Linked DNA regions of Homo sapiens: region 2 is linked to region 1. The links come from fine-mapping of genetic effects on gene expression. Tissue or cell type: thyroid. Region 1 holds a variant in brackets; the other region holds the start of a gene. All regions are shown on one strand. Distances are from middle to middle.

Evidence for each region. PIP is the estimated chance that this variant, and not a neighbour inherited with it, causes the effect.
Region 2: RDH13 starts here. The variant in region 1 is the best candidate, but not a certain one, in a credible set for the expression of RDH13 in thyroid (GTEx, PIP 0.65).

The regions. Positions count from the first base shown.
Region 1 is chr19:55,007,337-55,010,094 of GRCh38, forward strand. The region is part of intron 2 of GP6-AS1 (GP6 antisense RNA 1); the gene reads left to right. Among named protein-coding and RNA genes, the nearest start is that of GP6-AS1, 2.5 kb to the left of the region's middle. The variant A/G (reference allele first, on the strand shown) is at 1,465.
Region 2 is chr19:55,062,118-55,064,875 of GRCh38, forward strand. It overlaps RDH13 (retinol dehydrogenase 13), which reads right to left and starts at 1,031. Exons shown (of 7, transcript NM_001145971.2): 1 at 851-1,031. The coding sequence starts at 915. RefSeq lists an enhancer at 1-341.

The sequences.
Region 1 (2,758 bases):
ATGTTTCTCAAGGCTGCTTTGAGCAGGATTAGGGGCGGCGTGGGAACCTAAAGTGGGAGCGATTAAGCTGAAGGAAGATTTTGTGGTAAGGGGTGACATTGTGGGATTGTTAAAAGAAACATTTGTCATTTAGAATTATTGGTGATGGCCTGGATACAGTTTTGTATGAATTGAAAAACTAAAGGGAATAAGGAAAGGAGAAAAACAGGTATTAAAGGTCTAAGAATTGGGACGACTCAGGACATCTAATTAGAAAGTGCCTAAGGAGGTTCAGCATAGCCTTGCCAGCAAAGATTATTTATTTATTTTAAGAGTTAACAGTGGCGGTATGGGGATAGTACCAGGAGATACCAGCTGTGCTGGCTTGGAGAAACAGTGTAAACTGGCAGTGTAAACAAGAGCAGGGCATGTGTGAGTAGTTGAGAACGGTGAATAGGAGTATGACTAGACAGAAGATAGTAGGGATGACAAGTTTTTTGGGGCACAATCTAAGTTGGTCTGGTGTCTGGAATGAGACTGGGGCCTAATAAAAAGGAGTGTCTACACAGGAGCTTAAATGGGCTGTATCTTGTAGCATTCCAAGGACAGGCCTGAATTCTGGAAGCGAAAATGGTAAAAGTATTGTCCAGTCCTTTTTAAGTTGGTGGCTGAGCTTGGTGAGGTGTGTTTTTAATAGACCATTAGTCTGTCACTGAATACTAAGAGCCTGAAAAAATGCTTGGCTGATTTGACTAATAAAGGCTGGTCTGTTAGCAGACTGTATAGAGGTGGGAAGGCTGAACTGAGGAATTTTGTCTGACAGAAGGGAATGACAAGGCTAAACTGAAGAATTATGTCTGACAGAAGGGAAGAAATGACTGCGGTGGCCTTCTCAGACCCTGTAGGAAAGGACTGTACTTACCCAGTGAAAGTGTCTACCTAGACTAAGAGGTATTTTAGTTATCTTACTCGGGGCATGTTGAGTAAAGCTAATTTGCCAGTCCTGGGCGGGGGCAAATCCTTGAGCTTGATGTGTAGGGAAGGGAGGGGGCCTGAATAATCCATGAGGAGTAGTAGAATAGCTGATGCAACACTGAGAAGTGATTTCTTTGAGGATAGATTTCCACAATGGAAAGGAAATGAGAGGTTCTAAGAGGCTGGCTAGTGGCTTGTACCATAGCATAGCCTGCCTTTGCTGGTGTGTGGCGATTAGGCCTGGTGGAACCGCCATCAATAAACTAAGTGTGATCAGGGTGAGAAACAGGGAAGAAGGAAATGTGGGGAAATGGGGTGAACGTCAGGTGGATCAGAGAGATGCAGTCATGGGGGTCAGGTGTGGTATCTGGAATAATGTGGGAGGCCAGATTGAAGTCCGGGCCAGGAACAATGGTAATTGTGGGACTTAACAAAGAGTGAGTACAGCTGAAGGAGCCAGGGAGCAGAAAGTATATGCATCAGGTGTGAGTAAGAAAATAGATTTTGGAA[A/G]TTATGAGAGCTGTAGAGAGTGAGTTGAGCATAGTTTGTGATTTTGAGGGCCTCTAAAAGTATTAAAGCAGCGGCAGCCACAGCACGCAGATATGAGGGCTAGGCTAAAACAGTAAGGTCAAGTTGTTTGGACAGAAAGGCTACAGGGTGTGGTCCTGGCTCTTGTGTAAGAGTTCTGACCGCGCTAACCATGCCTAGGAAGGAAAGGAGTTGTTGTTTTGTAGAAGGTGCTGGGGCTTGAGAGATCAGTCAGACACGATCAGCAGGGAGAGCACGTGTGTTTTTATGAGAATTATGCCGAGATAGGTAACAGATGAGGATGAACTTTGGGCTTGACTGAAGTAATGGGGGCTGTCTGTGAAACCTTGCAGCAGTACAGCCCAGGTAATTTGCTGAGCCTAATGGGTGTCAGGGTCAGTCCAAGTGAAAGCGAAGAGAGGCTGGGACGAGGGGTGCAGGGGAATAGTGAAAAAAGCATCTTTAAGATCAAGCATGGAATAGTGAGTTGTGGAGGAAGGTATTGAGGACAAAAGAGTGTAGGGGTTGGGCACCACAGGGTGCATAGGCAAAACAATTTGATAAGGCGCAGATCCTGAACTAATCTGTAAGACTTTTCCGGTTTTTGGACAGGTAAAATGGGGGAATTGTAAGGAGAGTTTATAGGTTTTAGAAGCCCATGCTATAGCAGGCGAGTGATAACAGGCTTTAATCCTTTTAAAGTGTGCTGTGGGATGGGATATTGGCATTGAGCAGGGTAAGGGTGATTAGGTTTTAATGGGATGGTAACGGGTATGTGATCAGTTGCCAGGGAAGGAGTAGAGATGTCCCATACTTGTGGGTTAAGGTGGGGGAATAGGAGAGGAAGACGCGAAGGAGGCTTTGGGTTGAGGAGAAGGGTGGCAATGAGATGCGGCTGTAGTCCAGGAATAGTCAGGGAAGCAGATAATTTGGTTAAAATATCTCGGCCTAATAAGGGAACTGGGCAGGTGGGGATAACTAAAAAAGAGTGCATAAAAGAGTGTTGTCCAAGTTGGCACCAGAGTGGGGGAGTTTTCAGGGGTTTAGAAGCCTGGCCGTCAATACCCACAACAGTTATGGAGGCAAGAGAAACAGGCCCTTGAAAAGAAGGTAATGTGGAGTGGGTAGCCTCCGTATTGACTAAGGCGACGGACTTACCTTCCACCGTGAGTGTTACCCGAAGCTCGGCATCCGTGATGGTCTACAGAGCTTCCGAGGCGATTGGGCAGCATCAGTCTTCAGCCGCTAAGCCGAGAAGGAGTCAGAGAGCCTTGGG
Region 2 (2,758 bases), 55 kb after region 1:
AAAAAAAAAAAAGATGCTTCACTTAACACATCAGCGAGAACCTCTGACACGTGAGGTAATGTCGTCACACCTTCCGAGGATTAGGACGTGGACCCCTCTACGGAGTCACGACTCTGCCCACCACACCCATGTCCCACAGAGGCTAACGCTGGCAACAAGATAGTGTCCAGCAACAGGAGGCTGAGCAGGTAAACAGCACTGCACCCACAGGAGAGAAGGGCACCATGCAATACAGTGGCCACCAGCCACAGAGGCTAATTTTTAAGAAAGTTTAAATTAAGTAGGCTGGGCGAGGTGGCTCACGTCTGTAATCCCAGCACTTTGGAGGCCGAGGCAGGCGGATCACCTGAGGGCAGGTGTTTGAGACCAGCCTGGCCAACATGGCAAAACCCCGTCTCTGCGAAAAATACAAAAATTAGCCGGGCGTGGTGGCGCACGTGTGATCTCAGCTCCTGGGGACGCCAAGGTGGGAGGATCACCTGAGCCCAGGAGGTCAAGGCTGCAGTGAGCCAAGATCGCGCCACTGCACTCCAGCCTGGGCGACAGAGCCAGATTCTGCCTTTAAAAATAAACGAACAAATAAATAATACAAAACAACAAAATAAAGAGTTTAAAAGTCTGGAAGGAAAGCAACATTTACAAGGGCCCAGGCTCGCCCTTCCCTCCGAGTGACCTTGGGCCGGTGACCTGGCCGGCCAGAGCGCAGGTTTGCCCCACTCCGGGCGGGCACTGCGGGTCGGGAGCTACGGGGCCTGGACCCGGGTGCGAGGGGCGGGGGTCTCCGCCGCCTTCCCGGCCCCTGCGCTGGGGGCCCGCCTTGACCGCGCACGCGGGGCTAGAATGTACTCACTTGAGCAGCACGGCGGCGCCTGCTACCGTGCCCAGCGCCGACAGCGGCAGCAGGTAGCGGCTCATGCCGGGCCGGGGACAGGCGTCAGGCGTCAGGGGTCGGCGCGGAGCTTGCTGCACACCAGCCGCCTGGGTAGCTCCGAGGAAGAGCGCGCGACGCAGCCACAGGCGAGCGGAGGCGCAGGCGCGGCTGGGCCCGCGTCCGGAACTGGGCTGCGAGGGGCGGGGCGCGGGCGGAGGGGGCGGGGATCCTAGGGACGGGACCTATGAGCATCGGTCCTGAGCGCTGTCACAGCTGGGATTGGTGGTTTCAGGAGCCTGTGGGCGTGGCTAGTCCGGGGGCGGGGCCTATGGTTTGTTCGAATGACGTCACACTTGCCGCAGCGTATAAGGCGCTACGCAGTTCTGGAGTGAAATAGGTTCGAATCCCACCACTGTCAATTCCAGACTGTGACCCTCTGTGTGTCTTTCAACTATATCAGCCTATTCCCTCATCTGGAAATGTGTGTTTACCTTCTTCATAGACTTTTGGAGATAATTTGAGAATTTCCATGCACAGAAACAAGGATCTAGTAGCCTGTGGGTACCCAAGCTCCTGGGGTCCTGCAGGAGAAGGCGGCTGGGGGCCTGGACTCCTGGGTCTGAGGGAGGAGGGGCTGGGGGCCTGGACTCCTGGGTCCAAGGGAGGAGGGGCTGGGAGCATGGACTTCTGGGTCCGAGGGAGGAGGGCCGGGTGCCTGGACTGCTGAGTCTGAGGGAGGAGGGGCTGGGGGCCTGATTCATTCCCAAATTATCAGAATCTCATCCCCATGTCTGGCCCTGCACAGAGATATCTTCCCTGAACTCTGCCTGAACTACCTTTCTTAGATTGAGTATTGCACACACTCCTGCACTTACCTGTCCATGTTTGTCACCCCCACCAAACCGGGATGCACCTCTGGGCACCTGCTTCCCCTTGCACTGCTCACAGCGAGTGTATCTGATCACCACCTCCTACCCCTGACTGTGCCTGAGGTGCCAGGAGCAGACACCGCTGGAAACAGGGAAGAATTCAACCCAATCTAACTAGGAGTAAGTTTTCTTCCTCATCAGATGAACTGTCATCTTCTTATATGAGCCCTGCCATAATGGAGATTATACAGGCAGGAAGAGCTATTTTAAGACCTTAGTCAATGGCCGGGCACGGTGGCTCACGCCTGTAATCCCAGCACTTTGGGAGGCCGAGACAGATGGATCACGAGGTCAGGAGATTGATACCAGCCTGGCCAACATGGTGAAACCCTGTCTCTACTAAAAATACAAAAATTAGCTGGATGTGGTGGCACTCACCTGTAGTCCCAGCTACTCAGGAGGCCGAAGCAGGAGCATCACTTGAACTCGGGAGGTGGAGGTTGCAGTGAGCCGAGATTGCCCTACTGCATTCCAGCCTGGCGACAGAGTGAAATTCTGTCAAAAAAAAAAAAACCTTAGGCCTGTAGACCTTAAGCTCTCACCATCTCAAACGTATTAAACCAGTTACACAATGCCAAATGCTGTATAAGAGGCACTTGGAGGAGTCAAATTCATAGAGACAGAAAACAGAGTGGTGGCTGCAGGGGGCTGGAGATGAGATTGGGAAGTCACAGGATTTGTTTTTGTTTGTTTGTTTGTTTTGTTTTGTTTTTTGAGAGACAGTCTCACTGTGTCACCCAGGCTGGAGAGCAGTGGGCGATCTCAGCTCACTGCAACCTCTGCCTCCTAGGTTCAAGCGATTCTCCTGCCTCAGCCTCCCGAGTAGCTGGGGCTACAGGCACGTGTCACCACACCCGGCTAATTTTTGTATTTTTAGTAGAGACGGGGTTTCACCATGTTGGCCAGGTTGGTCTCAAACTCCTGACCTCAGGTGATCCACCTGCCTCGGCCACCCAAA